Linked DNA regions of Homo sapiens: region 2 is linked to region 1. Evidence: fine-mapped expression QTL. A gene starts in region 1. The other region holds a variant in brackets. All regions are shown on one strand. Distances are between the middles of the regions.

Evidence for each region.
Region 2: its variant is fine-mapped to the expression of CSRP1 in whole blood (TOPMed, PIP above 0.99).

The regions. Positions count from the first base shown.
Region 1 is chr1:201,498,362-201,514,399 of GRCh38, forward strand. CSRP1 (cysteine and glycine rich protein 1) reads right to left here and starts at 8,762. Exons shown (of 6, transcript NM_004078.3): 1 at 8,709-8,762. CSRP1-AS1 (CSRP1 antisense RNA 1) reads left to right here and starts at 8,852. Exons shown (of 2, transcript NR_160747.1): 1 at 8,852-9,058. It overlaps LOC124904484 (a long non-coding RNA gene), which reads right to left. Exons shown (of 2, transcript XR_007066793.1): 2 at 11,363-11,640. RefSeq lists silencers at 8,464-9,093, 13,625-13,704 and an enhancer at 13,855-14,064.
Region 2 is chr1:201,476,186-201,492,223 of GRCh38, forward strand. It overlaps CSRP1 (cysteine and glycine rich protein 1), which reads right to left. Exons shown (of 6, transcript NM_004078.3): 3 at 13,991-14,159; 4 at 12,670-12,799; 5 at 9,098-9,191; 6 at 7,345-8,604. The coding sequence ends at 8,528. Among named protein-coding and RNA genes, the nearest start is that of PHLDA3, 15 kb to the left of the region's middle. RefSeq lists a silencer at 4,333-4,422 and an enhancer at 6,803-7,132. The variant C/A (reference allele first, on the strand shown) is at 7,709.

The DNA of each region.
Region 1 (16,038 bases):
GACTTGGTGAGTAAAGGACACAGGGAGGTGCCGGGAAATAAAGGGGCTGGGAGTCAGAGGGATCTGTTGCCTCAGGAGGCAAAGGAGCCTAAGGAGAGAGCTCACGGAACCTGTCACATGGAAATGTTGAAAACCGGGATGTGGCAACGAGAGCCCACCCTCCTGGTAACAGGGCTTGCACCAGCAGCTGGAGAGTCAATGTCAAGGGCAGAGGGAGATACAGTCTCCATTACTGGAGAGCTCCCATTTGAGGGTGACACGGGCCTCAGCTCAAGAAGGGATCCAGGTCACGTTCACCACTCTGTCCCCATGCTCTGCATAGCACTTGGCACGTGGCTGTTCATATAGGTGGCCAGGAAATAGCTGAGGAATGAATGAAGGATGCACTAATATCGAAAGCCACAGCTTCTGGGGCCATTTTCTCTGCATGGTGAATCTCTGCAGAGCCTGGCTCCTAGTGGAGGTGCTTGGTAAGCGTGTGCAGGCTGAGAGGCAGAGCTTACTGTGGGGAAGTGGTGTTAGTGATGCTGGGGGATCTAGGTAGACCATGCCTGCTGCATAAGCCCAGTTCTCCCTTTCCCAGGTTCTGGAGCAGCCGCACTTCCTCAGGCTCCCACACATCGCTGACATGCCCCGCAGGAATTTCTGTAACTGCTCACATCCCCATCTCTGTCTTCCTCAGATAACCCATGCGGCCTGAGCCCCCAGATCCAGGGACAGTCCCCATTCCCAGCCTCTGATGTTGCACTGTTCCTTCAGCCTCTTTCTGTACTGAGGACTGCTAGCTGCCCTTGTCAAGCAAAGGTTTGGAGCTGAAAACCGTACGATGTGAAGGACAGTTAGACAGGAACAGCAATCAGCAATGTGTGTTATGGTCGGCCTGATCATCGGCCATTTCCCCCTTCTTCCTTGCTACAAAACCCCGATTTTATTCAGGCCATTGAATGACTGGGGAGATGCCCCTTCCCCAGATGGAGGAACAGAGCCTCTGTCCCCTAAGCCAACCATGGAGATTCCATTCCCTTGCCAGTGGCTGGATCAGGAACAGGCTGAGACCATTTCTGGCCAGTGAGATGTGAGGGGAGGTCTGCTTGGGAAGCTCTTGTGAATAATGTATCCAGTTGTACAGACCCACACAAGCTCTCTTCTCCCTCTGATAAGGTGACTCAATGTGACCCTTGGAACTCAGCCATGGCACCCACACTGCCATGGACTGAATGCCTACTATGCATCAGATGGCTCATCTGCATCATCCCATTTCTTTATTTTTTCAAGATGGAGTCTCACTCTGTCACCTAGACTGGACTGCAGTGGCACAATCTCTGCTCACTGCAACCTCCATCTCCTGAGTTCAAGCAATTCTCATGCCTCAGCCTCCTGAGTAGCTGGGATTATAGGCGCCCGCCACCACCACCATACCCGGCTAATTTTTGTATTTTTATTAGAGACAGGGTTTCACCATGTTGGCCAGGCTGGTCTTGAACTCCTGACCTCAAGTGATCTGCCTGCCTCGGTCTCCTAATGTGCTGGGATTATAGGCATGAGTCACTGCTCCCAGCCACATCATCTCATTTCATCCTCATCATCCGAAGATAAAGAATGTATGCCCACCTTACAGACAAGACAAGCAAGGCTCAGAGCGGTTAGGCAAGTTGCTTATAGTCACACAGCTGGAAGAGATAGACCTGGGATTCTAATGCAAGCTCATCTATTTCTGAATCCTCTGGGTCCCAGTCACCATGCTGTGGCCCTTGCATATTTAAGAGGGGCTGCTCATGATAGGCATACAATACATCAGTGCTGGCCCTCTTCCTCGGCCTTCTCCTTTTCCAACCCCCTGAACCAGCAGGGGACATACTCAGGCCCCTAGGAACACCCCTAAGGGAGGAAAATTCCCCTAGCCACATGGTTGGGAGCCAGTTCCAAGCACTGTTTTGTTACAGACACAAAAGCCCTTCTCCCTCTGGGGGAGACCCACAGCTCCATACAGGCCTCCCCTTGTTTTCCCTGGCTCCGTGTCAGGGGCCCACATCCAGCAGGGCCCCAGGGAATCAAGAACATGGGCGGAGAAATGGGTGAAACCCAAGGACCTGCCAGTAAGGAAAATCTGCTCAGGACGTCTCTTAGCCAGGCTGCTCTTTTGAGCCTGGTCATTTAGTTAGGGCGAGGGTGGGGGGTCTCCCCTCAAGAGCCCAGTGAAAGGACAGGGCTCTATTGCCTTGAGATGAAAAGTGATGACTCTATCCCTAGCCAGGAAGGGTTTCAGGCAGTGCCTGTGGATGAGGTCCTGTCCCCCTCTGCCCACAAGAGGACCCCTCCAGGTGACCCTGCCTGTGGGGAAGAGGCTCAGCTGGAGGGAACCCTGGCAACAGGCAGGGCTCAGTCTTCACTCCACCTCCTCCCTTTCTGCCCTTCTCTCCAACAGCCAAATTCTGCCTGTAGGGAGGCCGAATTGCCTTAAAAGGAAACCTGTTTCTCAGAGTTCATGGAGTGCCTTAGAGGGACACTTGGCTCCTTCTTAATTGCCTTCCCAGCTCTCCGGCACAGAGGCCCTGCAGAAGGCTGGGACAAGAGAAGTTCCCAAGGTCAGAGTTCAGGCTGTACAGGTCAATGGTTAGGAAAACAAGAGCTGGGATTCGATCAATATGGATTTACCCCTTCCTAGCTGAATGATCTTGGGCAAGTTACTTTCCTTTCTGAGTGTCAATTTGCTTGTCTCTAAAATGGACCGTATATGGACTCCCTAAAATTCAGCTGTAAGGATTAAATGAGGAGGTATGGAAGTGATGGCCAGCACACTGTAAGTGCCCGCCCCTCTGACTACCACTCACACGACTGGACCAGTCATACGTCGACTCCACACTGCTAGATGTGGGCCAGCCATCCACATGTAGCTAGTCCACATATGGAAGGAGCGAGGCTTAAGAAGTACCATGCCAAATAGGGCCAGGAACTCCTGATTCATCTGCTAGCCCAGCGAATGAGTCTGGGACAAGTTACTTGCCCTTCTTTGGGGTTTAGCTCCCCCCAGCTGTCTGTGATGTCCCATTTCACTCTGTTGACCATCTCAACAGAGAACAGAGCTTGAATTTTCTACTGAATGGCTGGAAACACCTGGTCAGCTGTTTTCCTGAAACGGCTGGCGGCTAGAAGCCTGCTGTGTCTGCTGCTGCATCTTCCTAGCCTGGCTGTCCCATTAGGACTGTACCCAGATCCCCAGTTAGGACTGTACCCAGATCCTCAGCCTTGAGACAAGAAAGCCAAGGTGGCAGCTCTTACAGCAGCAGCAAAAGGAGAAGAAAAAGGTCACAGACTCTCAGTCACCCCAAATCTCATGAAAGTCAGGCTCGGCTGGGTGTGGTGGCTCACGCCTGTAATCCTTGCACTTTGGGAGGCTGAGGCAGGCGGATCACTTGAGGTCAGGAGTTCGAGACCGGCCTGGCCAATGTAGTGAAACCCCATCTTTAATAAAAATACAAAAATTAGCCGGGTATGGTGGCGGGCACCTGTAATCCCAGCTACTCCGGAGGCTGAGGCATGAGAATTGCTTGAAACAGGAGATGGAGGTTGCAGTGAGCAGCGATCTTGCCACTGCACTCCAGCCTGGGCAATAAAGCAATACTCAGTCTCAAAATAAATAAATAAATAAATAAATAAATAAATAAATAAAGTCTGGCTCAGGTGACAGGTTGAAGGAACCATCGCAGAGATGTAAAATCCCTAACTGCCAGCCACCAGTGTCTGAAGGCAAGCCCCTTCTTATCAAACCCTTCAAAACCATCCCATATCTTTATTTCTACAGTGGAAAAATCCCATCTCTCCCATTCCAAAATCATTTATTCCCTAGGGCCAAAGAGTGACTGACGGCACAGGGTTAAAGTCCCCATCCACTTGCTCCAGTAGAAACCTGTCAGATGTTTATCTAGCTCCCTCGCATTAGCTGAGCTGCTTGGTATCTGCCAGGTGGACAGGAGGGCTGGCATCCCTTCCAATCTGCAGCTCGGCTTTTGCCTCCACGCCCCAGTGTCCAGAGAGCAGCTGAGGGCAGAGAGAGGAGGGGGCTGGGCTGGTCAGGGCTCAGAGCCAAGTCTTAGAAGTGACACCTGAGAGCTCAGGAAATCAGCCTCTCCTGAAGCTCAGGGTCACGGGTAGGGGGAGAATGGCTGCCATGGAGATGGGGCAGGCTTGGCCTCAGCTTTCCATGTCCCACCTCATGTTTCCTTCAGAACCGTGCACATGACCCGCCTCTCTGAAAAGGTAACCAGCATCACTGAGCTACCATCAATCCAGGCCCCATGGGCCTCCAGAACTTGACTGTCATTCTAGGTCAGGAATCCTTCTCTCTATTGAATGAGCTTTCTCTTTTCAAATCCATGTCCAGTGGCCCTTGTGAGACTGTGAGCTGACAAGGGCGGTATATGTCTCTCCCTTTCCCCACTTGCCCCCAGTGCCTTCTAGAGCAGAGCTCCCTACTCTTGGAGTTCAGAAGTTTGCAGGGCGCAGTGGCTCATTCCTATAATCCTAGCACTTGGGGAGGCTGAGGTGGGTGGATCATTTAAGGTCAGGAGTTTGAGACCAGCCTGGCCAACAGCGTGAAACCCCATCTCTACTAAATATACAAAAAAAAAAAAAAAATTAGCTGAGTGTGATGGTGCACACCTGTAATCCCAGCTACTTGGGAGGCTGAGGCAGGAGAATTGCTTGAACCCGGAGGCAGAGGTTGCAGTGAGCCAAGATCGTGCCACTGCACTCCAGCCTGGGGGACAAAAGCGAAACTCTGTCTCAAAAAAAAGAAGTCTGAAGGTCAACACAGGTAGAAATGGAGGTCGATGACTTCTTTGTAGTATTTCAAAACTTCTACAGGAAATCCTGTATTATAATAAAGCCTCATAGACAAATTAACAGATGGGGTTTCCTTGCTTTTATCCAGATCTGTAATGATGTTGGTTATTCCATGCTGAACAAAATGGTCTGAATGATTTTTCTTTGATTAATTTTTTACAAGTTAAAACACATTAGCACTTAGGCCTTAAAAACACAGGTCGTTTGCAGCTGACATCCCAGGAAGCACCAACACACGCCACCCCTGCATAAAGAAAGCCAGGCACACAGTCGGGGGTAGGGGGTGCTGGCTGCCTAGCTGGGGCTGAGCTCCAGCTGCTAACCTTCCATTTCTTCCCCTGTTGTCACCGCTGAAGACTCAGACGCTGCCTTCTGGCCCTGGGGAAGCACTGGAAATACCAGAGTCTGGAAATGCTAGCTGCCCCCGTATTTACACACTTTACCATACATGGGAATTACTCAGTGCTGGCGTCAGACACATTCCTGGGTAGCTGCGTAGTACAGGCACGTCATTACCATATAAATTCTTGACAACTAGAAACAGCAGTCGGAACCCAGGACCCCTCCACCTCACCTTCTCTGCCCTCCCCTCAAGTTTTGCTAGCTCTCTCTTTCTCAAGCACGCTCTTTTCCAGGCTTGTTTTCTTTCTGCAAACCTGGCTCTGAAACTCAAACATGCAGAGCTGGTGAAAGCATATCCATTAGTGGCTGGGAACTAACTCTCAGGGGTCCCCTCTGCTCCTACCTGGCCATGCAACAGACTGAAAACCCGGAGGTCAGGAGTTCTAACCCTGATCCATCCAAGTGAAAGATATCTTCCTTAAATAGTTTATAAGCCACTGTAAAGCACCTTGTAAAGCTGATGTGTTTCACAAATGGCAGATATTTCCTTAGTGAGTTGATCTGGAAAAAGGAAATGTAGAGGAGCAAAGAAAAATAATAAGGTAGTGACTGAGCATACGTTTTGGAAACAGTCAGCTTATGTTTGAATGGCAGCTCCACAACTGATCAGCTGTGATCCTGAGCAAGTTTCTTACTACCTCTGAGCCTCAGTTTCTCCATTTGTAAAATGGAGAGCATCAGTAGCTACCTCATAAATTGTCCAAGATAACACATGTGAAGTATTTCTCACACTGTCTGGTACACTGCAAGTGCAGATATCTGGTTATCCTTATCTTAAGGAGAGGCCAACTCTAACACTTATCGTTCAGGTTTGTATCTCTTTTGATATTTGACAATATGCCCTGAGTAATGCCAAATGGCTGACTTGGAGGAAAAAGTCTTATTCTCACTAGCACCTCTTTGGATCCCAAAATATTTAACGCATGTGTCTTCATCTAGCAAGCCAACGTTTCACAATAAGCTAGGCTTACATACATATTTAAAACTTTAACAACCTGCCAGAAAAGCCTTCCCAATTTGCTTCCCACACCAGGGATGGACAGTGAATTAAAAACTATGTTGCTAGGCGCAGTGGGTCATGCCTGTAATCCCAGCACTTTGGGAGGCTGAGATGGTGGTGGGGACAGGGAGGGGATCACTTGAGGCCAGGAGTTCGAGACCAGACTGGCCAATATAGTGAGACGCTGTCTCCAAAAAAAAAAAAAACACCAGGCCGGGCGCAGTGGCTCATGCCTGTAATCCCAACACTTTGGGAGGCCGAGGCAGGTGGATCACCTGAGGTCAGGAGTTCAAAAACAGCCTGGCCAACATGGCGAAATGCCGTCTCTACTAAAAATACAAACAATTAGCTGGGCATATTGGCAGACACCTGTAATCCCAGCTACTTGGAAGGCTGAGGCAGGAGAATCGCTTGAACCCAGGAGGCAGAGGTTGCAGTGAGCCAATGTCACGCCATTGCACTCCAGCCTGGGTGACAGAGCAAGACTGCCTCAAAACAAAAACACACAAAAAAGCCCAAAAAAAACCTACGCCTTTTTTCTCTCACCTGCTTGTCAATCTACCCAAGTGGAAAAACTGGCTAGTAACTATTTGCAAGGTTTATGAGTATCCCGTAGGCCAACTCAGCTGAAAGACCATTGCTACCCCACTCATTCATCAAATGTTTGCTGATCACTCAGTCAAGTGTCACTACACTCCCAGGCTGCAACTCTGGCCCAGTCAGGACTCACTAGCTCCAGAGGCAGATGCACATGTGTGCAATTAAAAGAGCAAACACCTGGGCCAGGAAGGCAGGTGCTAAGACAGACCACAGGCAAATAGGCCACAGCACCCCTGTTTTTCCCATTTTATTAGCAGGCCAATTGCAGAGTTGATGGGCCTTCTCTTTAGTTTCTCTCCTGCTTCTTCTTCCCCATACCCTCCATCCTGGGCATCTCAGGCCTTGCAGACAGTTCTCTCCTCCCTCTCCTCTAACCCACACTACACCCTCTGCAGGATAAACTTCCTTCCTCGTCTGACTGCCTCCGCCCCGGATATCCTCTCCAAGGCAAAGAGTCATTCACTGGAAGACCGTGAGCAGGAGGAGGCTGGATTTAGGAAACAATGGGTAAAAGCTGCCCTCCAGCAGCTGAGGGCTGAGGACAGTCTCTCTCAAAAGAGGTAGCCAGAAACCAGCTGGAGAGTCAGGAGGCAGCAGTTGAGTGAGAGCAGTTGAGGGGAGGCTCAGTACCCATCCCCAAATCCCACCTGGGGAAAATCCCCAACATGCAGTCTGAGAGGACAGAGGGAGACAACCAGCACCTCCAGCCTCCTTAGCTTCTGGGAGGAAGGCAAGGGATGAGGGGAGGACAAGAAAGACAGTAACTGAGAGATCACTCCTGTGTTGGAGGTTCTGTGTAATATGCTCCCCAAGTAGCATCCCTGAAAGAAACTGAGACATTGAGAAGTTAAATAGTTTGTCCAAGGAAACCTGCGCGTTAAGTGGCAAATCCAAGAGTCAAAACTCTGCCTTCCAAACAATCCCACCAAGACTCCAAGCCACCTCTTCATGATATACTGATATACTTTCTACCAGGGCCCAGTGGATTTCCTCGGTGCCACTGTGATAGTATCCCAGCGTGGGGAGAGCCTGCCCATTCATTCACTCTCAGGGAGCAGCTGGTGGGTGGCTGGAGCCCAGGGCTCTAGGCAGAGCCTGAGCCCACTATTGCTCCAGCCGATTCCTGGGTCCTGGTTAGTTCACAACAGCACCAGAACCAGAAGCATGCAAAATATTCTCTAGTCTGTACCAGTAGATACAATACCTGCCTCAGAGGGCTGATTGTTAGCTAACACATTGTGATTTGCTTTAAATGTGCTCAATACCAGCCCCTTTATCACTTCCCAGCTTTCAAGGACTGAGGCCACAAAACACTGACTGCAGGCTCTTTCAGGTTTCAGTAACCATCACCACCTAGCACCAAGATTTGGAGTGGAGAGGTTTCCATGCAGTTATTTCACAAGAGGGAAAACTCACACCTGCGCTCAGGGACACAGATGTCCAAGGTCAGGCCCAGATGTTTGCCCCACCCCGCCCGCGGGCATTTTCTCCCCAGCAGGAGGGTGAGGGAGGGGGTGGCACGGATGCCCTCATCTCTCTGCCATACAATGAGCGTCAGTGGCGCGCAGAATCGCCGATTGTTCTGCCCGACTTGCAGGCGGTTGCGGGGAGCCGGGTCGCCCTGGGTCACGCACACGCGGAAGTCAACTGTGTCCAGGAAGCCCAGGAAGGCCCGGGATGGGGACGGACCTAGTGCCTCCAGAAAAGAGCAGCACTGCCCGGGCTAACTGCGGTCACTTCTCACAGTTCCCCGCCTGCGACAGCCCCGGGGCTGCGGCGGGGCTGGCAAGACCGGGAGGCGCTGAGTGCGTGCCCAGGCGCCCCTCCGCGGCGGGCAGAGCCGCGCGACTCAGGGCGCACTCACCTGGCAGCTGGCTCGGCGGCGCAGGGGCGGCAGGCGCTCTCGGAAGTGGCGGCTGGGTGCGCCCGGCCTGCGCGCCGTTTTGTTCCGCTCCGCGGAAGGCGTGTCCCGGGCCACGCCAACCAGTGGGCTTTGCACACTGCACCACTCCAGGGCTGATGTCATGGCGCGAAGCCCGGCGGTGCTGCCCTCCTAGGCCCCGGGAAGGCCGGCCGGCAGGGGCGGGGGCAGGAGTCGCCGACTCTGGGGGTGCTCCGAGCTCGTGCTGCGGTCCCACTGTGCGCCCTGTCGCCGCCACCGCGGAAAACGTCTTGCACGTGCGAGGGGCATTTCAGGAGTTTCCTGTCTGTCAGGTGAGAAGGCGGAGATATGACCTTAGAGGTCAGACCCATGATAAACTTGAGCCCCTAACGAAAGGGTGTCTCGAATTTACTTGTCCTGGTGGCAGAGGGTGAGGGACACATTTTGGGCGCCAGGGTAAGACAGACCCTTCCAGGGCAGGTCTGATTCTGCCCATCCACTCACTAGCTGGGCCCTGGGCCTAGACAGCCCTTCTGGGTTCAGGGTCATCTGTGAACGGCGTGTAATCTACAGGGATGTGAGGGGCTAAAAGGAGATCCGGTAGGACCCGCAGACCTTCAGCAGCACCCGGCATGTAATAGACACTCAATAAATGTAACTCCCCCCTCCAACAGCTCTTGCCCCTCAGTTTTTCCCAGTCTTCCCTGCTACCCTAAGGACAACACCTGGAAAAAGGTGTTCTCCCGCAAAAGCAGCAGTTCTGAAAAGTGGGTGCCTCCATAGAGGCTTTTCTCTGGGGCTCCAACCTTCAGTAGGACAGACACAGGCTCAGGCCACTCAAGCTGCCCCTGGGGCAGTTTCCAGGGGACATTCTGTCCACACCTCCTCACCCAGTCCCCAGCCCTTCCTGAGTGCCCCGTGCAGGCATTTCAGGGAGCAGAGAAGCTCACAGCCTCCAGCTGGTCACCCTACACCCCAGGTGGCCCATAGATGCAGCTGCTATGTCTTCCACCCTGGGCAGGTGTCAAGGGTTCAGGCCCCAACCGGCTTCACTTAAAGCCCTGGTTTGCTGAATCAACTTTTTGCCAGGAATAAAGTTAAGCATCTTATGATCTAGAAAATGAAGTATTTGGCCAGGCACTGTGGCTCACGCCTGTAATCCCAACACTTTGGGAGGCCGAGGCAGGCAGATTGCTTAAACCCAGGAGTTCGAGACCTGGTGAAACCCTGTTTCTACAAAAAAATTAAAAAAATTAGCCAGGCGTGGTGGTGTGTGCCTGTAATCCAAGCTACTCGAGAGGCTGAGGTGGAAGGATCACTTGAACTCAGGAGGCAGAGGTTGCAGTGAGCCAAGATTGCACCACTGCACTCCAGCCTGGGCGACAGAGCAAGAGTGTTTCTCAAAAAAAAAAGTGTTTATCTAGGTTTTTCTTGCTTTCTACCATAAGTAACATCTTTCCTTTGGCCAGGTCCATCCTATAAACAAGGCCCTCCAAGATTAAAATGTCTAGAAGCACACAACCAGTGTTTCTTGCAGATTGGGCCATCTTCATCTGACCCAACCAAGATGAAGGAGGAGAAACCAGAAGAATTTCTGGTCACGGCTGCACTGACTAAGCAATAGTTAAACAGGTCCATTAAACTGCAGAACCACCATCAGTGTCAGAGACCAAGGGCTTCCGCCCAAAGATGGCGATCCCATGGGATTTCCCCCTCTCCTTTCAATTCTCAGTATCTTGGAGAGATGAGCCTCGGAGTTTTGCCCAGGATTTTACAAAAGGGCAAACTCCTACATTACCTTCTTTGGTCTGGGTTTGTCCTCTCTGGAGTCATGGGACTGTTGATAGATTTCCCTGTGAGGACATGCCAACCTGTGCTGTGAAATGGCTTTAGGGTAGATCCAGAAAAAGAAGAGCAGTCACTGCAGTCACACTTGGATTTCTCCCAGATCTTAAAGCACCTTATAAACAGAATGGCTGTACAATGTGTCATCTAAACCAGAATGCTTTGGATAGTAAGTGGTATGTGGTAGTATTCGTAACTACACTAAGGCAACAGGACTATCTCAGGCAGTCCAGGGCAGATGGTCACCCCTCTTTTCCACCCAAAGACTGTCAGGTCACTTGTCTTAGGAGCTGTCTACGCAGAGCTACAGATGAAGCCAAGTAGGACCTGCCTTGTTTGGTGTTTTTCCAGAACCTCTCACCTTCTGACTATATTATTCTCCCAGCCTGCTGCCAGTTACTTGGGCTTGGTCTTAGATAGCACATTTGCAGATAAAGAAGACTTGAGGGATGAGGAAGGGCTTTGGGATTGAGTTGAGTCAAAGGTGATGCTGGGGTTACCCACCATGCAAACAGGAACAAGCCTGATGTTGAAATGACAGAAAAATCAGTAAACATCATCAATACTTGGGACATCCTTAAGGCAGAGATTCTCATTCTGCAGAGGTTCTCATTCTGGCTGACCTCATTTATATAACCATATCTAGACTGGCCCGAGCTGGTCAGCAGCACCCACATCTGCAGAGACAATGCAGTCAGAGCTCATCACCAATAAATTATCTGCTAGGGGTTCTAGAAGGAGGCTTGGCACACTTAGGGGCTTACCTGCTTCTCAGGACTCTCACAAATGTCTAACCTTTTCAGTATCTTTATGTTCTCTCTGTGCACTCTATTTCCCAACACTTCTGGGTTGGTATTTGATGGCTGCTAGGAATGAAGTGGGGCCTGTTACAGGCAGGAAGTAGGGCCCCTGTCCTCCAGCTTCCAACTTTGTCTGCTGCTTCCTCTGGCATCTTTTCTTCTCTTTCCTCCCTCATCAGCATCCTGATGCTACATCTTCTCTCTCCTCTCCTGTGGTGAAACCCTTCTTTTCCGCATTGATCCCAAGTGAAGAGGACCTGAGTGTGAGGCTGAGGAAAGAGTAAGGGAATGTGTCTGGCTTAGCTCTGCTCATCATCCCAGAGAAATTAGAGATCCAGTCTGGGCTGGAGATCTTCTTGTCCATCCTTCCATCCATCTGTCCATCCATCCATTCATTCATTCACCCATCCATCCATTTGTTCATCCATCTGTCTCTCCATCCATCCATCCCTCCCTCCATCCATCCATCCATCCATCCGTCCATCCACCTGTTCATCCATGTATCCATCCAACCATTCACTCAGAAGACATTTATTGGGGCCCCACTCTGTGCTGGTCTCTAGGTTCTGGGAATACAAGGAAGCCTATAATTTGGATCCTGACCTCAAGAAGTTTACTCATCTAATGGTCTAAAAAAAGAAAAAAAAAATCCAGCCCTAAACTTGCAGTTTGAGTCTCAGCTCTGTCATCTATGATTTAAAATACTAATGATGGCTGGCGCAGTGGCTCATGCCTTAATCCCAGCACTTTGGGAGGCCAAGGCCAGCAGATCACTTGAGGTCAGGAGTTCAAGACCAGCCTGGTCAACATGGTGAAACCCCATTTCTACTAAAAATAGAAAAATTAGCCGGGTATGGTGGCATGTGCCTGTAATCCCAACTACTGTGGAAGCTGAGACAAGAGAATCGCTTGAACCTGGGAGGTGGAGGTTGCAGTGAGGCGAGATCCAACCACTGCACTCCAGCCTGGGTGACAGAGTGAAACTGTGTCTCAAAAAAACAAAAAACAAATAAAATACTGTTGATAATGAGGAATAATTATAATTATTAAGCATTTACTACCTGTCAGGTACTTTACACAATTGTCCCCTTTAATCTTCGCAGTAGCTGTATGAAGTAAGGACTATTTTTACCCCCTGCTTTGCATGTGAGGAGACCAGGGCTTACAGCAGTAGCTAACTTAGTAGCTTTGTGACCATGGCCTAGGCCTCAGTTTTCCTCATGTGTGAAATGGGAGGTTGGACTAACTCAGTATTCTCCAAAATTTCCACTGAGGTACCTCTGACAGCAAAGAAGTAAATGTAAGGAACCCACAGTGTTGTCAGAATCAATCCACTCCCAGTCCTTGAAGTCTTGGGGTTTATTGCAAAAATTTATTTGAATTTTGCATTCTCCTTGGCACATAACTGTATTTGTCTTCATAAAAAGATAATGTTTAAAATGACTCACTGGCCAGGCACGGTGGCTCACACCTGTAATCCCAACCCTTTGGAAGGCTGAGGCAGGTGGATCATTTGAGTCCAGAAGTTTGAGACCAAGTTTGGCAACATGGTAAAACCCAGTCTCTACAAAATATACAAAAATTAGCTGGACATGGTGGCATGCTTGTAGTCCCAGCTACTAGGGACGCTGAGGTGGGAGGATCGCTTGAGCCCAGGAGGTAGAGGTTGCAGTGAGCCGTACTATACTCCACTGTACTCCAGCCTGGGTGATAAAGTGAGACCCTGTCTCAAAAAATAAATGAATAAATAAATAAAATTACTTACTGTTCAGAGAAATGGAGTTCTTAGGAAATGTATCGTGCTTGGTGGGTAGTATCTCTGTGGGCCCCTGGGAATATGACTAGGCCCGCCTACCCACGTGGGTGATCTGCAAGGCTCTCCCTGGCTCTGGCACTGTTCGGCTGTGCCTAGGCTAGGATGAGGCAAGTCAAAGGGGGCTTGTGGAATAAGGCCCAGCATTTGCTTTCAGTCCCTGTATTCATGTTTTCTAAGGAAGATTCCTAGAATCTCTCAGGGTTTGCTGGAGAAATGAGCTTGGCAGCCAGAGGCAAATGAAAATCGGAAAAGGCAGTGTATACATGTTATAAGAATAAAATGCTTAGAGGCAAGAAAAGGAGAAATCCATTTAGAAAGGAACAAAATAAAAACTCTAGGGGGTTCCTGATCCAGAAATCTCTTCTGATTTTCAGGCTGAAATTTACACTGTGAAGCTCCAGGGGAGCTTGAAAGGTGATATTCAGAAATGCACTGGGGTGGCTCAGGGTTGGGTCCTTAAGAACACTGTGAAACAGTCTAGATAGGTTTTTAAATGACCACTTCCTCTTCCCCTCCCCTTGGCCTGAAATTGATGTAAGGTCACTTCCCTCCTGCTCCCTCTGCAGCCACTGCCTCTGTCCCAAACAGGCAAAACTGTGGAGTGGCTCTCACAGCCAAAGTGTGGGGAGGGGAAAGCAGGAGGAGCTGGGGACTCAGGGCGGGAGCAGGCGGCAGGGAGCTCCCGGGCAGCTGGCTGTGCATGGCTCCACTGTTCCGAGCCTGACAGGCTCTAGGGAAGTGTGGCCACAGGGAGCTGGCTGAAGGCTCAGGAGAGGCTTTTCTGACAGGCCCAGTTCCAATCACGCCAGCTCCTAATCTACTGATCAGTTTGCTTTCCTCCTGCTTTAAAATCTCTTTCTCCCTGTTCTCCTGGTCCCTAGCCACACCACCTTCACTGCTCTGATCTTATCTATGATCACCTGGCCAATCTACTTAAAGCAGTGAAGTAGACTGAAAATAACCAGACTTTCGGCAAAACTCTTTTTTTTTTTTTTTTTTTTTTTTGAGACGGAGTTTCAGTCTGTTGCCCAGGCTGGAGTGCAGTGGGGCGATCTATGCTTACTGCAACCTCCACCTCCTGGGGTCAAGCGATTCTCCTGCCTCAGCCTCCCAGCCTGGGACTACAGGCATGCGCCACCACACCCAGCTAATTTTTGTATTTTTAGTAGAAACCCTGCAACACGGCGTTTCACCATGTTGGCCAGGCTGGTCTCAAACTCCTGGCCTCAGGTGATCCGTGCACTTCGGCCTCCCAAAGTGCTGGGATTACAGGCGTCAGCCACTGCACCCGGCCTTGGCAAGACTCTTGACTCCTCTCCTCCATCAGGGTCGATTATATTAAATTACACTGACAGAAGAAAGGATTGGATGACTTTTGAAGAACTATTTCAACCCAAAGACAAGCTAAGGAAACATTGAGTTCACTCACCTGGAAGGTCTTGGAGGGCAGGAATTGTAGCTTACCCTCCTTTGTAGCCACACAGAGCCTTACATGGAGTAGGTGCTCAGTATTTTATGAATGTGTGCGTGGATAAATCCATAGTTTGCAAGAAACCACGAATAAGCTTGCCACCTGCTGGTGAACTTGTGAAAGACACCTCGCCGCACCTCGGCTCCCCCAAGTGGCCATACACTGTAATCCTAAGAAAACCCTCAGCTTGGACAATCCTTTCTTTCCAAGGAGCCCTTTGTTACAGGAAGTCCCAATCCAGACCCCAAGAGAGGGTTCTTGGATCTCACGCAAGAAGGAATTCAGGGCAAGTCCATAGAGTAAAGTGAAAGCAAGTTTATTAGGAAAGTAAAGGAATGAAAGAATGGCTACTCCATAGACGGAGCAGCCCTGAGGGCTGCTTTTTGCCCATGTTTATGCTTATTTCTTGATTATGTGCTAAACAAGGGGTGGATTATTCATGCCTCCCCTTTTAGACCATATAAGGTAACTTCCTGACGTTCCCATGGCATTTGTAAACTGTCATGGCACTGGTGGGAGTGTAGCAGTGAGGACAGGTCACTCTCGTCGCCATCTTGGTTTTGGTGGGTTTTGGCATCCTTCTTTACTGCAAGCTGTTTTATCAGCAAGGTCTTTATGATGTGTATCTGGTGCTGACCTCCTATCTCATCCTGTGACTTAGAATGCCTTAACCGTCTGGGAATGCAGCCCAGTAGGTCTCAGCCTTATTTTACACATCCCCTACACAAGATGGAGTTGCTCCAGCTCAAACACCTCTGACAACTTGATACTTATTCATAAATCCTTTTGACTCTAACTCATATCCTACATTCTTAGCAGAGAAGCCAAAAATGTCCTAGGACACTAGTCAGTGAAAAAGGCCTTTGAAAGCCCTGGAAGCTGTTTTGCAACTCAGGACCCTCTCTTCTCCACTGGTAGATGTTCTCTCCCCAAGATCCCTTTCCCTATCCTTCACGCATCCAGACAGAGAAAGCCTGTATTGAGCACCCACTATGTGCCAAGCACTGGGCTAGGTGCCGAGAGATATGAATGGAGAATGGAGACTTTACAGGGAGGGGAGAGCTGAAGTGTGCACCCAGATGTGGGAGAGGAGACTGGCACAGGAAGAGCACCGGGAGTTCAGACAGGGAGAGAACTCCATTGTGGGGATCAGAGAAGGCTTACATGGGAGATGACAGGCTAATGAGCTGGGCCATAAAGGGTGGTTAGGCTCATAATGTATGGAGATGGACAGCATTCTGGTTACCTATTGCTCTGCAACAAACCACCCCAAACTTGGTAGTGTAACAGAGCGGTCATTTGTTTTTCTCTCTCATGGTTTTAGGGTTTTCCCAAGCTCAGCCGATTGTTCTTGCTGGGATCTCTCCTGTGATTACAGTC
Region 2 (16,038 bases), 22 kb before region 1:
TACACAATCACTTCCTCTCTCTGACCTCAGTTTCCTCATCTGTAAAATGAAGGCTGTCAAGTTCTATCTTGCAGATTCAGTGCATATTTGAAAAAAAAAAAAAAGCCTGGCTAGTTTATGGGAGCTATGTAACCCCTGTATAGGCAAGAAAAGAAAACATCACTACTCCTTCCTCAACCTGTTCCCTGGATTCCTCAGGCCAGGTAGTGCCTCCTCACCTAGATGGGGCATGAAAATGGGTCTGTTCACAGCCCTGCTCCTCCCCACCCTGCTTCTCCCTTCAGGCTTCTGCACCCACCCTCCAATCCACAGGTCCCTCACTGCTCTCCTCTCCCTGGGAGCTGGGGGCTGGGAGACCCACTCCAGCTGACCTCTCCCTCAGACTTCTCCTGACCTGCTCGCACCGCTTTGATGTACAGCCCTTTGTTCCAGGACTTTGGGGTTTCCTCGGATCTCTGTTTTTCTAAAGGGAAACAGAAGGAAAAACCCTACCAAGGTTTCAAGTCTCTGATGACTTGGGTTTTATGGGCACCATTGCGACAGACTTCAAGTGGGCAGCAACTCTGCAGCCGACCCGCCCAGGCTTGCTCCTGGGCCTGGCTCTCTCAGTGGAAATCCCCTCCCACGCTCAGCCCTTTAATCACTTTCCAGCCCAATAACTTTCCTGATTCACCAAGAATCCCTTTCGTCTTGAGAGCACCTACTGCCCCCTCTGATGGGGCTGAGTCTGGGCTTGAAGGCATTTGATCCCAGCGTGGGTCTTACAGAGATTGGACTTGTGGGCTAATGGTTCAGGTTGGGGCCTGCAGAATTTTCCTTTTTCCCATGCCATCTTGGCATCTGGGTGCCCATGTTGTAGGAAAAAATGGGCTGCCCTGGAATGAATCTCTTCCTTGAGGACACTTGACCAAGGGGCAATGACACTAGGAGGAGACTGACTGATACCCAGGAAACTAGTGGCCTCAACCAATATGCCAATAATAGCCATGAAACCCTTGACATAAAAGTTGCTTTCTCTTTTCTTCTAGTAATAATGTGCTTTAAATGCAAGTAACACTTGAATACATTTTTGTTGCAAAAGATTCAAAACATGACAGTATCTTTTCACCACCCTTCTAGTCCCCCAACCCCAGAGACAACAATCACTTAGCTTGGTTTGGGTCTTGCCAGATATTTGTTTTTACTTTTCACACATCTGCACCCAGACTAGTATAAAGCAGCATTCTCAATGGTAATGTAAGGGAGTTGGTTGAAGGATTCGTAAGTCCCCTTCCAGCTGTGCCATTTTCTGCATTTGTGGGTGGCTTTTCCCTCTCCTCCTAAATAGGAGACATTCATAGGCTCTCCCTAAAAGTATGGGGGGAGGGGGAATGCACAGAGGAAAATAGGAAAGGAAAGGTCACAGTGTCAACAGCAGTTCCTTCGAGGTGAGGAGATCATGGATGAGTTTTTTACCACTTGCCTCTGATTTTCAAATGTTTCATCATGAGAGTTATAAAGATTATTATTCGTGAGTATGACTTTGATAACAGGGAAGCTCCTATGCAGTGCCATTGTCAAGATCAGGCAGAGAAGGAGGCTGTGAGTTGTCCAGCCTGAGGCTTAGGTCAAGGAGAAATTAACAAATTGCTCAAGGCAGAGGGGTGTGTGGAGGGGCTTAGGGAGGGGAGGAAGGCTCATGGCATATTCTTGGATGTGATCTACAGGAAGATTCATAGAAAGGAACTTCAGAGTAAATCCCATTGTGTGTGAATTAAGAATTAAGTATTCTTAATTCTTAATTCAGGCCCTGGGCTAGACTTTAGGGACACAATGGCAAATGGGTGAATCAGAGTTCTCTACTTAACAGGGACTAGCAAAAGAAGGGGAGGAAGAGTTCACATCTTTAGGAATCCCACCCTACTTTTGCAAGAAGATATTCCTTCCTACTGAAGAAGACCCCAGAGTTAAGCATTAGATCTTTGACAGGCTACGATCCTGACTTTGTAGAAATATGGTCTCCATACTTGACTCGGCCTATCTAAGGTGATATTGGTATGTGTACTAGTTAGGATGGGCTAGGTTATGCTGTGCTAAGAAACTCCTCCCAAACCCAATAGCTTAACATAGCAAAGGTCTTCCCACTCATACCATATGTCCTACTTGAGCTGGCAGGGGAGGTATATCTGCTCCTTGAGATATACACATATCCAGGTTGCTGGAGGTTCCATCACACCTACTTCCACACTCTCCACAACAGGGAAAAGGGACATGAAAACTTACATCGTGCCTATTAAAGAAGTCTGCTCAGATGGCCAGGCACGGTGGCTCACGCCTGTAATCCCAGCACTTTGGGAGGCTGAGGCAAGTGGATCACCTGAGGTCAGGAGTTCAAGACCAGCCTGGCCAACATAATGAAACTCCGTCTCAACTAAAAATACAAAAAAATTAACTGGGTGTAGTGGCAGGCACCTGTAATCCCAGCTACTTCAGGAGGCTGAGCCAGGAGAATTGCTTGAATCTGGGAGGCAGAGGTTGCAGTGAGCTGAGATCACGCCACTGCACTCCAGCCTGGGCGACAAGAGTGAAACTCCATCTCAAAAAATAAAAAATAAAAAATAAAAAAAAAGAAGTCTGCTCAGAAGTGACACTTCTGGTCTCAATTAGAGGCCACAGCAAGCCACATCACCACATCAAAATTCAAGGGAAGAGGCCAAATGTAACCCTTAAATGTAAACGTAGATATTACTGTGTGTCCAGGAATATCTGTGAACATCTCTTAAAGGACTAGACAGTGTGATTGCCATGGGACTGCTGGGTACCCAGAAGGCAGAGCCACAGAGATACCTCTTCACTCCTCCAGCAGGGAGCAACAATCCCCCTTGGCCTGGGACCAAGACCTTGAACTCTCTTGAAGAGTCAGGTTGAGGTCAACAGAGTGGAAATGTAGAAGGTTCAGGAGCAGGTGCTTCTGAAAAGGAACTAAGGGCTTGTCCAGGCATGGAAAATGCCCACTAAAGGCTTTATTCACGATAATCTGCTTCCTGAATTTTCATGGCCTTTAGGGTGAGTCTTTCTAGGCCCATAAACTCAGGACATCAGAGTTGGGTGGATCCCCTGAAGCTTGGCTGTTCAAGTGTGGTCCCAGGATCAGCAACATCAGCACCACCTACCCCTGGGAGCTTGTGAGAGATGTCCAATTTCAGGCCCCACCCAAAACTAGAATCTGCATTTTAACAAGATCCCCAGGAGATTCATATGCACATTAAAGCTTGAGAAGCATTTCCTCAGAACTAATTTAGGCCAACGTCTTCACTTCGCAAATGAGGAGCCGACACCCAGAGGGGAGGAGGCAGGCCCAAAGTCACAGAGCTGGTTCCAATCCTGGCTCCACCACTTGCCAGGGACTTGAGTAAGTCTCTAAAATTCACTGAATCTCGGTTTCCTCTTATATAATAAAGGGATAATATAATTACCTCCTAGTGCTTATATGAGGATCAAATAAGAAAACATCTAGACCAGTGCCAGGCACATAGTATGTGCTCAATAACTGTTAGCTATTGCTATGGTCCTAACTCACCATTCCAGCACCAGGCCTCATACTCCCAGTACATAATTGTCTCCTCTTAAGGCAAGGATGTTAGGTATAGCACTGCAGCGATGGGACCTGGACCCAGCTGCCTGCATTTATATCCTGCTCAATTTGACCTTGAGAGGGTTGCTGAATTGTTCTTTGGTTCTTGGCTTCAGTTTGATCAGTTATAAGTGGGTAAAATGACAGCACCTACTTCATAGGGCTATTGTGAGAATTAAATGAGTTAATGCATTTAAGGTCTTCAAACAGTCTATAGCATATATTAAGCACACGAGATGGATGAGTAATGTGACAATTAAGTGAGTTAATACATTAAAGGTCTTCAAACAGTCTATAGCATATAGTAAGCACACAAGTTGGATGAATAATAATGTTTCCAAAATGTCCAAAAGAAGACTAGGTTGGAGGAAGTTGCACCCTAGAAAGGCAGGGGACAGGCGTTTCTCAGGGGGAGCTGCCTCTGTTTTTTCCCTTTGACCTATTGCAAGTCCCCAGTCTGTTTCTCTGGCCACTGGACGGCCCCCAACCCCTGGCTGTGTTTTTCCTCCTCCACTGGACTCACTGGGCTCCCTGGTGCCTCCATCAGGAAGCGCTGAAAGGCCAGGGGATCTCTGGTGGGGAGGGGCGGACTCAGGCAGCCGACAGCTGTCTTCAAATCTCTGAAGCGCTGTCATGCAGGAGAGGGATTAGACCTGTTCTGGATGACTCTAGGGGACAGAAATAGGAAGTTCCAGGAAGTCCTCTCTAATCATTAGAACCGTTCAGAGGCAGCCCCAGCTGCGGGGCGGGGCGGGGCGGGGCGGGGCGGGGCGGGGCGCGGAGCTGTTGGCAGCTAAGTGGTTGAGGTTGAGCGGCCGGGTGGAGGCCGGCACCTACTAGGAGGCTGGGCTGGTCCGCAGGTTCTCAAGCCCGGCTGAGCCCGGGCAAGCGTCAGAGAATCACCAGAGCAGCTTGTCGAATACAGATTCCCAGGCCCCACCCAGGCCAACCGAATCAGAATCTCTAGGGGTGGGGCTGGGAATCCATTTTTAAAGGCTTCCCCAATGATTCTCAGAATAAAGGTTGGGCTTGGAGGCGGGGCCGGGGCTGGGCGTGGCACGGAGGCGAGGCGCGGGGAGGGCCGGACCTTCCAGTTGTTAATCCCTGTGTTCCTCACTCCGCCACACTCACCTCCACTGATCTAAGTCGGGGGATCGTTCCTCGCTGGGTGCCCCCCTCACTTGATCTTAGCCAAAAGGTCGAGAAGCGATTGGGAGCCCCTCTCGAATAATTTCTGTGGCCCTTGATTCAGGGATCACTCCCACACTTAATAGCAGCTCTAACGCCCCCCAACCCCCGCTACCCAAGATCTCTATCCTCACCCTCCAGTCGGCCTCGTGGTCTTCCTGTCCCTCCCCAGCCTCTCAGGTGACCCGGACAATTTGCTAAGGCTCTTGGAGAAGGGCAGCCCGAGGAGGCTGGGCCTGCCGCCCATCGGGAGCGGCAGCTATTTTCCATCACATCCTAAAAAGCCCAGGGCTCTACCGCTCCTGCAGCTGGGCATAGCTCCCACCAAACACATTCTCCCGAGGTCGCCCTGGACGCCTTGCTCGGAGATGACAGAAACGAGAAAAGAAATACCTAAGTGGACATAAAGACCTAGCTCACCCTGGCCGGGTGCGGTGGCTCATGCCTGTAATCCCAGCACTTTGGGAGGCCGAGGTGGGCAGATCACCTGAGGTCGGGAGTTCTAGGCCAACTAGCTTGACCAACATGGAGAAACCCCGTCTCTACCAAAAAAATACAAAAATTAGCCGGGCGGGGTGGCTTATGCCTGTAATCCCAGCCACTCAGAGGCTGAGCCAGGAGAATCGCTTGAACCCGGGAGGCGGAGGTTGCGTTGAGCCGAGATCGCACCATTGCACTCCAGCGTGGGCAACAAGAGGAAAACTCTGTCTCAAAAAAAAGAGTCCTTGCTCACTCTTTGGTGAGGGTTTGGTATTCCACAGGGCCCCGAAGCGCGACAGCCCTCCAAGGAGAAGTGAGCGTCGGGGATTAGACGCGTGCGCTGTCTTGCGCAGGAGCTGAGTCCTCAGGGTCCACAGAGAGAGGAGGAGGGCGTGGGGTGCGCGGAAACGCAGCGCCTGCCTTTTGCCCTGACCCCACAGCACCACCTGGTGTCTCCCGGGACGGCGCAAGCGCCGCGCTTGCAGATGCTGGGCCCCCTCCCCGTCAGCCGACCCTCCTTCCCCAAGTGCCTCCCCTGCCTGGTGTTCCTCCTTCCTTGATGCGCCCCTCTGGCTGGCCCTTCACCGTCCAGTGAGTGCTTCCTGGCCTGGCCGCAGCTGGCTTACAGCCTACTGCCTTTACCCAGGTCTTATTCCCAGGAGGTGCGTCAGGGCCCCTTGCCCACCGTGGGGCTGCACTGAAAAACAGTGGCCCGGGAGCAAGACAGCTAGTGGTGCAAGGCACAGGACGGTCGCCGACAGGCCCTCCCGATCAGCCAGCAGAGGGCAGCCTCTCTCCAGCTTTGGGCCCCAAAGGCTCCCATCCGGGCCACTCCTGTAGGCCCCTCCCAGACAGAAGGGTCCACCTGGGTGTGTGGAACCAGCCGTCCTCCTGGCTGCGGAAACTTGTCCGGAGCACCTTTCGTGGGCCACCCCCTGTGCTGGAGCCAGAGGGGTTACCAAGATGGAGCCCTTGACCCCGATTGCAGAACTCCCAGCCAGAGCCCACCCTGGGCTGGCATTCCCTGAACTCCTCCAGCTCTTCTCCCGGTCATCTTGTACTTTTCTATTGCTCTGCACCATTGATGGGTGTTATGCATGCATAGGTGCCTTTCTCAGAGTCCAGGAGGGGCCTCTGTCAAGGCCACTGTTGGAGCTGGTCATCTGGGAAATAGGTACACGAGGCCTTGTTGTTATTAAAGCATCTGCTTTTGTTTTGAAAACTTAGTGTGGGCACATTTTCGAGAAGGGCTGAAGCAAAGCAGCACAGCCCCAACGCATCAGGCAGGTATGCCTAAGATGAAGGATGCCGCAACCCCTCACATGAACCTATTTCCAAAAAAAAATGTGGCCTTCCACGGACTTGCTGTGGGGGCCCTAACAGCACAGCAGGCTGAGCCAGGCCCCTCCACCACACCCCTCCTAGGTAGAAGTGAGCTTTCTAGATTTGACGTGAAAGTTCCTCTGGTTGAGTTTCCCTCTTAGGCTGGGGCTTTCCGAGCTGGGAGAAGTTCTGAGCACAGTTTTGGGGCCTAGCTGAGCCCCTCCAAGTCCAAAGTCCATGCAATTCCCAGGCCCAGATTTGGGGGTGGAGACCAGACAGGACAAGCCAGTGGTGTTTGGCTGGTCGGGTCACTTCAGACAGTGTGGTTCAGTTGGCATTGATACTGAGAAGTAATTGGTCCTTAGAAAAAGCAGGAACGAATCCACTTTGATTCATTTCCACCAGGCTGCCTGCTTTTTTTTTGAGACAGAGTTTCACATTTGTTGCCTAGGCTGGAGTACAATGGTGTGATCTCAGCTCACTGCAACCTCTGCCTCCCGGGTTCAAGCGATTCTCCTGCCTCAGCCTCCCAAGTAGCTGGGATTACAGGCACCCACCACCATGCCTGGCTCATTTTTTGTATTTTTAGTTGAGTCAGAATTTCACCATGTTAGCCAGGCTGGTCTCAAACTCCTGACCTCAGGTGATCCGCCTGCCTCGGCCTCCCAAAGCCCCTGCTAATTTGATTGCTCCCATTGAGTTCCCTCCCAGCTCCACAGACACAGGATTGGACACCAGAGTTCTGGTCTAAACAGCTTTATTGACCAGATGAGAAATCAGCTTGGGTACAGCCCATGCCTGCAGCCCTTTCAGTGGGTGGCTCCAGATAGTGTTGTCCTTTCAGTTGCTGGGAGCGGTGAGGCCCAGCCCTTTCCCCTTCCTCCCACCACTATTCCTAACCTGGGGCCTGGCAGGGGTGGAGTGATGTGATCTAAGGGTCCCTGGAGAAGGGTGGAGTGGAAGAGGCAGGGTCTTGGGTTAAAGGGAAGATTCTGAGGTCTCAGGGCAAAGGGAAAGGTGTTTGGATGAAGACTGAGGCAGTGCCTACCTCCCTCCACATCTGAGGATCAAGCAGGTGTGGCAAGAACAGAGCCCTGGCCTGGG[C/A]TCTGCTGGCCGCAGCCTCAGGAGCCAGGGTTAAGGCCAGAGATAAATGAAGATTTGAGCCATTGATAAATGCCAATATATGTTTCAGGTATTTCATTAGGATCCTCCCATCAAGCAGGGAACTAGATGTTTGAGAAGATCAAACAACATCCTGACTTTGGGGTCCTTAAGACCTGGGTTATTCTCCTCCCAGTCCTAGTGGGAGGCTATCCATTCCACAAAGACTCAAAGGCAAGAGGCCTGGAGAAGCAGGGGCTCCTAGGACCCTGCCTGCATGCCTCTCTGCCTCCAATAGTGACTCCCTAAGCTGGGACTCCTCAGGCTTACTCTGAGGGACACCAGGAAGCTCAACCTCTTTCCCACAGAGGAGAATCTCTGAGATCCAAAAAACCCAGCCTTCCCCCCTCCTCATCTTGGTCTTGCTTCCCTCTCCCTCCAGCCTGTTGCTGCTGCTCCTCTGGGTGCCAAGATGTGTCCTCAGGTGTCTTGGTCAGCTGATGATGGACACGCAGCACAGGAGGCTAAGAACAGAGCTCTGTGGGGCGAGGTGTGGGGAGAGGGGCCTGCTCTCACCTAGACCCAAAACACTGAGGTCTCCTACTGGTGATGGTGTCAGATCCCAGGCCTGGGGAGCCCTTTAGTGGGGTGGGACCTCAGGCAGACCCCCAAACCAAAGGGAGCCAGATGCCCAAGTTCAAGTCATTAGTGATATGTGGCAGGGCTGACAGAGAAATAATCCTGGAGGTCTCCAAAGCTGCTGGGAATGGAATGGCGATGAAAAGCGCAGGAGTGGGCAGGGTGTGGTGGGTGATGGTGGCCTCACTCAGAGTGGACCAAGGCCCCAGCTCCTTGCCCAAAACCAAAGCCCTTGGGCCCGAAGTTTTTAGCATAACATCCTGCAGAGAGAGGAGAGAGATAAGGGCATGTTCTTCCTCCACCCCCAGCCACACCACCCACCCTCCTGCTGAAGATCCCCCACTCCTAGTGCCCAGCCAGACTGCTAGGGAAGGAAGGTCCACTGGTACCCCCTCACCTCCACAGCACCCCAATCTCAATAGTAAAATAGCGAAGAGGCTCTTGGTTGTACCCTGTACCCATTGCCCCTGCCACCAAAATTATAGAAGCATCATCTGCTGTAAGAACATTGGACTGGGAGTTAGGAAGCCAGGGTCTAGCCCTATGCCTGCCTCAATTTGCCAGATGATGCTGGCCAAGTTGCTTTCCCCCTCTGGTCTTGTTTCCTCATCTGTACAATGAAGGAATCATACTAGATGTTCAGATCTTGGATCCCAAGGCCAGGAATTAGTTTACATTCAGCAAAGGCAAAACTACTTAGCCCCCCTACCCCCTTGGGCCTCCTGACCCTCAATTAGAAGTGAAAACACCCACCTTTGCAGTAAATCTCGCCATCCTTGTCTGCCAGGGTGGTTGACTCAAGGCCTTTGCCACACTTGGCACATCGAAAGCAGGCCTTATGCCAGGACTAGGCAGGGAAGGAAATAGTTAATGGCTGCCACCAGTGATGAGGGTACCCTCCACCCCAGGCCCACTCCCTTTGACATAACCATGGTATAAGGGCTCAAGCCACTTCTGAAGTCTACTCAGCTGGTGCTGCTGGGAGGACATGGCCTATGGTGCAAGGCAGTAGAGGGAGAAGGCCAGGGACCACACGCCACCTCGCACCATCTTCCATGCTATGTTGCAATGGCCTGATGATTAGGGTCACCAGCTATACCACAAAAGGCAGGTGAGGGGGTGGGTTTAACACCAAAGTAGCTGTTACCCCACTGGCTGGGCCAGATGAGCCTTCTCCAGACCCATCTTGCCAGTAGATCAGTGGTGTGAGCCAGGGCTTTGCACTCCTCCTGGTACTGTCACTTAGTACTTGAACAGCCCTCACCAGAAAGACCTCTCTGCCCTGTGTTGCCTTGGGGCCTCTCATAGAGACCCAAAGGGTCTTCTGTGGCCCCTGGAGAAACTACTCCTTAGGACTTTCCCTGCTGAGTTTAATGCATTTCATAGACTTATTCTCCTTCCAAAGTGATACTAGACAACATTGACTCTGGCTTCCTCTGTGCCAGGCCCTGTGCCAGGCACTTTACACTGGTGAAGTCAGTTAGTGTTCACAGCTACCCAGTGAGGGACATACTGCCACCCTCCCCTCCAATAGCTGATAGCCTTTGGGCAAAGGAGGCACCTAATTCTAGAACTTCAGAGGCTGGGCTGGTCCAGGAGAATCCAATTACAAATACCTTCTCTGTGGCCAGGCATCATATGTTTAAATATCTAGTCCTCACATGCATTCTGTAACACAGGGCAAACAGCTGTCCCAGAAAAAAAGTGAGGCCCGAGTTTGTACACAGTGATGGGACGTTGCACAGACAGACTTCTCCGCAGCCAGTTCCCATCAACAGCTGGGCAGGCTAAGAGGCTGATGTGTAGACAGCTCTGCTTAACCCAGGAAAAGCAAGAGGCAGGCAGCAGTCAGATAAGACAAAACAAGGCCTTTTAAGGGCAAAGACACTCCCAGTGCCCAGGCTGGTGGATGAGAAAGGAAATTCATCCCCTCAGATTTCCTGGTTGCCTAACCTTGCACATTGGCTTCTCCTCCAGAGAGCTGAAATGGGGGGACCTGGGTCTAGGTCAGTGCTGGTGCAACCTCAATAGTCACCCAGCCTTTGCTGCCTCCTCTGTAAAGCAGGGGCTGCTACCCCAAGCTCTCTAGGCTGGAGAAAAACTGAATCACACCTAGACCAACACCTCTCCTCATATTTCCTAGCCACCTCCCTGCCAAAATAAGCTGAATCCCTTTGCTCATTCATAAGCACCCAAAAGTACTCCCAGCTCAACATTTCTTGAGCGAGGCAATAGAAAGGTGGGGCTTCTCCCTACCTTTTCCACTTGAATGCAAAATTCTCTTATCCTACTCCTTAGTACAGCCCTAACTTTACCTTATAGCCTGCCTAAGTAATGGAAATAGTGATTCTTAGCTATTCTTAATAATTTTCTATTCTCATAATGAGATAGAACAAAAAACCCAACTTAATAATAATATTAATGTCTCCTGTTTTCATATCCTTTAGTCAATGGCAAGGATCTTCATTGTGACCTCAAAATAATCCCTGAAAATAAACAACAATAATAATAACAATAGCAAAACTGTACTGAGGACATACCAGGCACTACATTGCACATTATACATGTACTATCTCATTTAATCATTAAAACTGCCTTGTTGTTGGGTGTGGTAGCTCACACCTGTAATCCCAGCACTTTTGGAGGCCGAGGTGGGTGGATCGTGAGGTCCAGGCTGGTTCAAGACCAGCCTGGCCAACATGGTCAAACCCCATCTTCACTAAAAATACAAAAATTAGCTGGGTGTGGTGGCGCGTGCCTGTAGTCCCATCCACTTGGGAGGCTGAGGCAGGAGAATCACTTGAACCCGGAAGGCAGAGTGCTAAGATCGCGCCACTGTACTCCAGCCTAGGTGACAAGTGTGAAATTCTGCCAAAAGAAAACAAAAACAAAAACAAACAAACAAAAAAAAACTGCCTTATTTGTCAGGGGCCATTACTTGGTCCACTTTGCATTTCCTCCACCATCCAGGCCCACTTTAGAGCTGAAGAACTGAGGCTTAGGAAGGCTAAATTTTCCCAAGTTCGCTCAGCCAATAAATGGCAAAACTAGGATTCAAAGCAGGCTGTCTAGAGTCCAAGCTCTTAATCACCGTGCTAGGATCCCCTCCCATTTTGCAGCCTTGGAAATGGGTTTGAAGAGGCTAAATGGCCCAAAGTAGCATTAACAGTAGTAACAGCAGTAAGAGCAAGGGCTTCGGAGTCAGACAAACCTGGGCTTGAGTCTGGCTTAGCCCCTTCCTAGCTAGCGGATCTGGGCAAATTATGTAATCCTCCTGACTCCCAGTTTCTTCATCTGTACAACAGGGATACTAATCCCCATCTCTGTCCAACCATGACTGTGAGAGTAGAGATTCTAACACTGGCCTAAGTGTTAATTGTTTAACATTTCTTGATCAATTCCCCTATCCCATTCCTCAAGGTCAAAAAGCCTTGAAAGCCAAAACCTGAATCCAGAAGAGATGAAGATGGGCTCCAGGCCCAGACATTCCATAACCTTGTTGTGTGATCTTGGCCAAGTCACTTTTCTATCTCAGGCCTCACGTGATGCTCCAGAATTCCTCTCTGGCCCCACAGCTGAAAGACATCTCTTCTGTGATTTTCTGACTGCTAATCTGACACTGCAAACCCCAGGGGCAAGAGTTCTGCCTCTTCTCTACTGCAGCCTATCTGAAGGAAGTGATCAGCTCAATTGGGAACTGTTGATTTGCTACAGTGATTCTCACTGTGCATTGGTGATTGGGGGCTACTGTCAGAATATCATGGGGGAAGGGCATGTGCGGCAATTCTAAACAGTGTGAAAAAAGCCTCCTAGGAGGCTCTGGTAGGTCTGAACCTTGAAAATCTCTGCCCTGGGGGTATTTGGATGGGTTTTTGGGAGTCCACATCCCATGAAACAGAATGTATATTTTTGGGATCACAAATCCTTTGAAAATTTAATAAAAGCTATGGATCTTCTTCTAAGAAACAGACAGGTTCCCATGAAACTTTGTATATAATCTTCAGGGCTTTGTGGACCCTCTGCAGCCCATCCACGTACCCTTACTTTCTGTTCTCCTATATTAGAGATACAGATTGATCATTGCCACTCCCTATGAATTGCCCATTGTCCATCAATGCTGGGGATGTTACTGCTCATGGCTGATATGAGCTCCTTGGAGACTGGAAAGCACAGGTACATGCAACCCACAGGGACAAAGAGAAGAGGTTAAACCCCAGTGCTCAGGCTGCCCTGAGCAGAGCTAGGTCACCAATTTAAAAGTTCTGGAATCCACATTTCAGGAAGATATCTCCCCCCATCCCTCTCATGCCCAGCAGCCACCTTACCTTCCCAGCACCAATCACCTTCTCCGCAGCATAGACTGCCTGGCTGCATCGGGGGCAGCGCTCGGAGCCACCAATCTTCTGGGCAAATTTGGATGCATTGGGGTTGGTGGTGGGCCTGTGGCCAGGGGCTCTGCATGGAGAAGGGCATGGGGTGAGGTGACTTACACTGTAAGTACAGGTGGGGCTGGCACTGAGAGGGCATGACCCTACCTTCATCTCATGCCAGAGCAGCGCGCAATTCTCTCTGCCAAAGTCACAAAGGCTAGGGCCTCTAGGGTCATCTCCCATTTTACAGATGGACAAACCAAGCCTCAGCACAATGTTATTTCCATTGTAACATCATACTTCCCTCGGTCACCCAGTTAACCCCAGAATCATTTAACACCCCATTTGCTAAGAATTGCCCTCCTCTGCCCCTCATTCCTGCAGCTGGTCTATTATCAGATTCTTTACAGGAGAAATCTGCTGATGAATCATTCCCACTGGGGCAATGACCTTGGCTGAAACTTGGTAATTCATCCATCATTTCCGTCCACCCCCCAGGCCGAGGAGCAAGCCAGGCTGACTGCCAACAGCCACCATTTACCCAGAGGCCAGGGAGTGCCGTGGGGTGAGGGGGGTGTGGTGGGGCTGATGACACCCTATGGCATTTCGAAGAAAGGGAAATGACTTCTTCTCAGTAGTGAGAGATAGCAGGGCTGAGACAGTGAGGCTGGTGTGGCAACGGTGCTGCCCTGAGCCCCTGATCTGGCTCCGACACTCACTAGCCGTGGGACCCCAGGCAAGTCACTGAGCCTGGGCTGGATTTTCTCATCTATAAAAAGAGGAGGCAACATGGTGAAACCCTGTCTCTACAAAATACAGAATTAGCTGGGTGTGGTGGCACATGCCTGTACTCCCAGCTACTCGGGAGCCTGAGGCAAGAGGATCACTTGAGCCCAAGAAGCAGAGGCTGCAGTGAGCCAAGATTGTACCACTGCACTCCAGCCTGGGTGACAGAGCAAGACTCCCTTTCAAAAAAAAACAAAAAAAGAGGAAATTGGACTAAGTGATTCTTGGGGCCCCTCCCAGCTCTGACTCTCATACAAATATAGAATGCACGCTCCTTGCAGGGAGGAGCCCAGCCTGTTTTAGTCCCTGCTGCATCCCCAGCTCCTGCAGCAGCCTGACACATAGACACTGCTCTGTGACTGCCTTTTAAATAACTGGTTTTCTGAGCCTTCCATTGCTTACCCAAAAATGGTTGTAAATACACATGAGGCCTAATACAGGGTGGGGGAGAGAGCTCAAGAAAAAGGTTGGGAGGGGATCTTTTACTCACTCCTCGTGCTTGATACCCAGCGACTCCCCCTTGTCAGTGCTGAGGGTGCCTGCGCCCTGCCCGTAGCCATAGCCTTTGGGCCCATACTTCTTGCCGTAGCAGGACTTGCAGTAAATCTCCTCACCATGCACGGCCACAGTGGTACTGTCCAGATTCTTCTTGCAGACCACTGTGGAGGGGAAGGGGAAGCGGACGCATTGAGTTGAAGCTGGGGTGACCTTCTTGCTCATTGCAAGCTTCTTACAGCTGAAGCTCTCTGGCCTCTTTGCATACATAATATCCTGATCTTTCAGGAACTGTCTACAAATGGAGGCAGGCGGGATGGCCAATGGGTGGGAGGACAGAGGGATGGGATCTGCATATCCGACTCTAGAAATGCTGGCCAACACCAATTCCTCTTCCAGGAATCCATATGTGTCTCCTTTGGTCCTCTGCACCCCTAAACTTCCTCAGGCTGCAGTGCAACACAGGGTTCAGAGGCAACAGCCTAGGCTGACCCCAAGCCACAGGACGCCTGTTGAGGTTCCTCACTCTGCCCTCAACAGAGACCATATGTCCCAATGGGGGAGGAGGAAAAAGAAAAGAAGGGCAGTTTTCCTGCCTTCAACAGTGGAATCCAGAAGAGACTATCTGTGCATGTTGGCAGGGAGCCAACGGGGGGAGATGCAGGTGATGTGATACCCCATAAGAAATGTTTAACATTTATTAAGTGCCCAACATGGTGGGCTTTGAAATGGGATGCAGCTCATGCTAATCACAAGAGGATTTGAAGTTTCTAATCTCAGAAATCACTTTACCACAGGAAGAAGTGAGGGTCAGACACAGAAGAACTTCCTGACTCCTGGGGTAAGAGAGAGTGGAACGGAAGGAACTAGGGATTGCAATGGTCTGAGCTGGAAAGGCTGTGGGCCTCATATTTCGTCCTGTTAATCTCAGAGGGGAGCTATGCCCAGCTATCCAGAATAAAACAGTTTGGGCTGGGTGCAGTGGCTCATGCCTGTAGTTCCAGCAGTGGGAAGCCAAGGCTGGAGGATTACTTGAGCCCAGGAGTTTGAGATCAGCCTGGGGAAGATGGCATAACCCTGTCTCTATTTATTTAAAAATAAATAAATAAATAAAACTTTTAAAAATAAAAATAAAGTTAAAGCAGTTCAGAGCCTGGGGTCATGAAGAGTCAGACTGCCCAGAATCAAATCCCAGCTCTCTCCCTTTCCAGCCATTTGCAAGTTTTTTTTGCCTTTCCAGCCTCTGTGTCCTCATTTGTAAATGAACATAATAATGTCTGCCCCAAAAGCTGGTGGTGAGAATCAAATGAGATCTGACATGTGAAGTACTTGGCATAATACCCTGCATACAACAAATGCATAATAAATGTTGGCTACTCTTATTAGTATTATATAAAGTTAGTACCATCGGGAGACAAGGAAGTGGGAGGGACAGGCCCCAGCTTCAAGAGATCATTGCTTCTAACTTTCACATACTCCTCTCAAGAGATTCAACTGCATTCTTTTTCTTTACTTGTCCTGTAATCCTAATTCGGTTTGATCATATTCCTTAAATATTGGAGTTCAGCATCTCAGTTGGACGCATCCTCAAACATGTCCTGAACATAGAAACCGAGGGATACCACTGGAGAAGCCACGCCTTTTACCACCCTCGGAGAAGCTCTCAGCTCCTTTCCTTGCAACTGCCATCCTCTTGCCTTTAAAGGGTCCATCCCTCTGCCAGCTCCTCTCTCACCCTAAGCCCCAGGTTGGAGACTTCAGACTAAATAAGGACCCTCTTGTCCTGCTCTGGAGATCTCCATCTCATTCCAGCACTCTGGGCCATCCAAATATGGAACTTCCCACCATTTCCCCCCGGGACCAGCTCCCAAGAAGGAGGGAGAGGGAACCACAGGCCAAGGGCTCCAACATTCCCTTCTAGGGTGGGAAGTCAGGAATTGGCCTGGAATTGTTTTCCTGTAAGATCCCAATTGAACTGAAAATTCCAAGACCAGAGAGAAGGCAGAAAGCAAAGAGTGCTTGGGGGAACAGAGGTGTATTTTG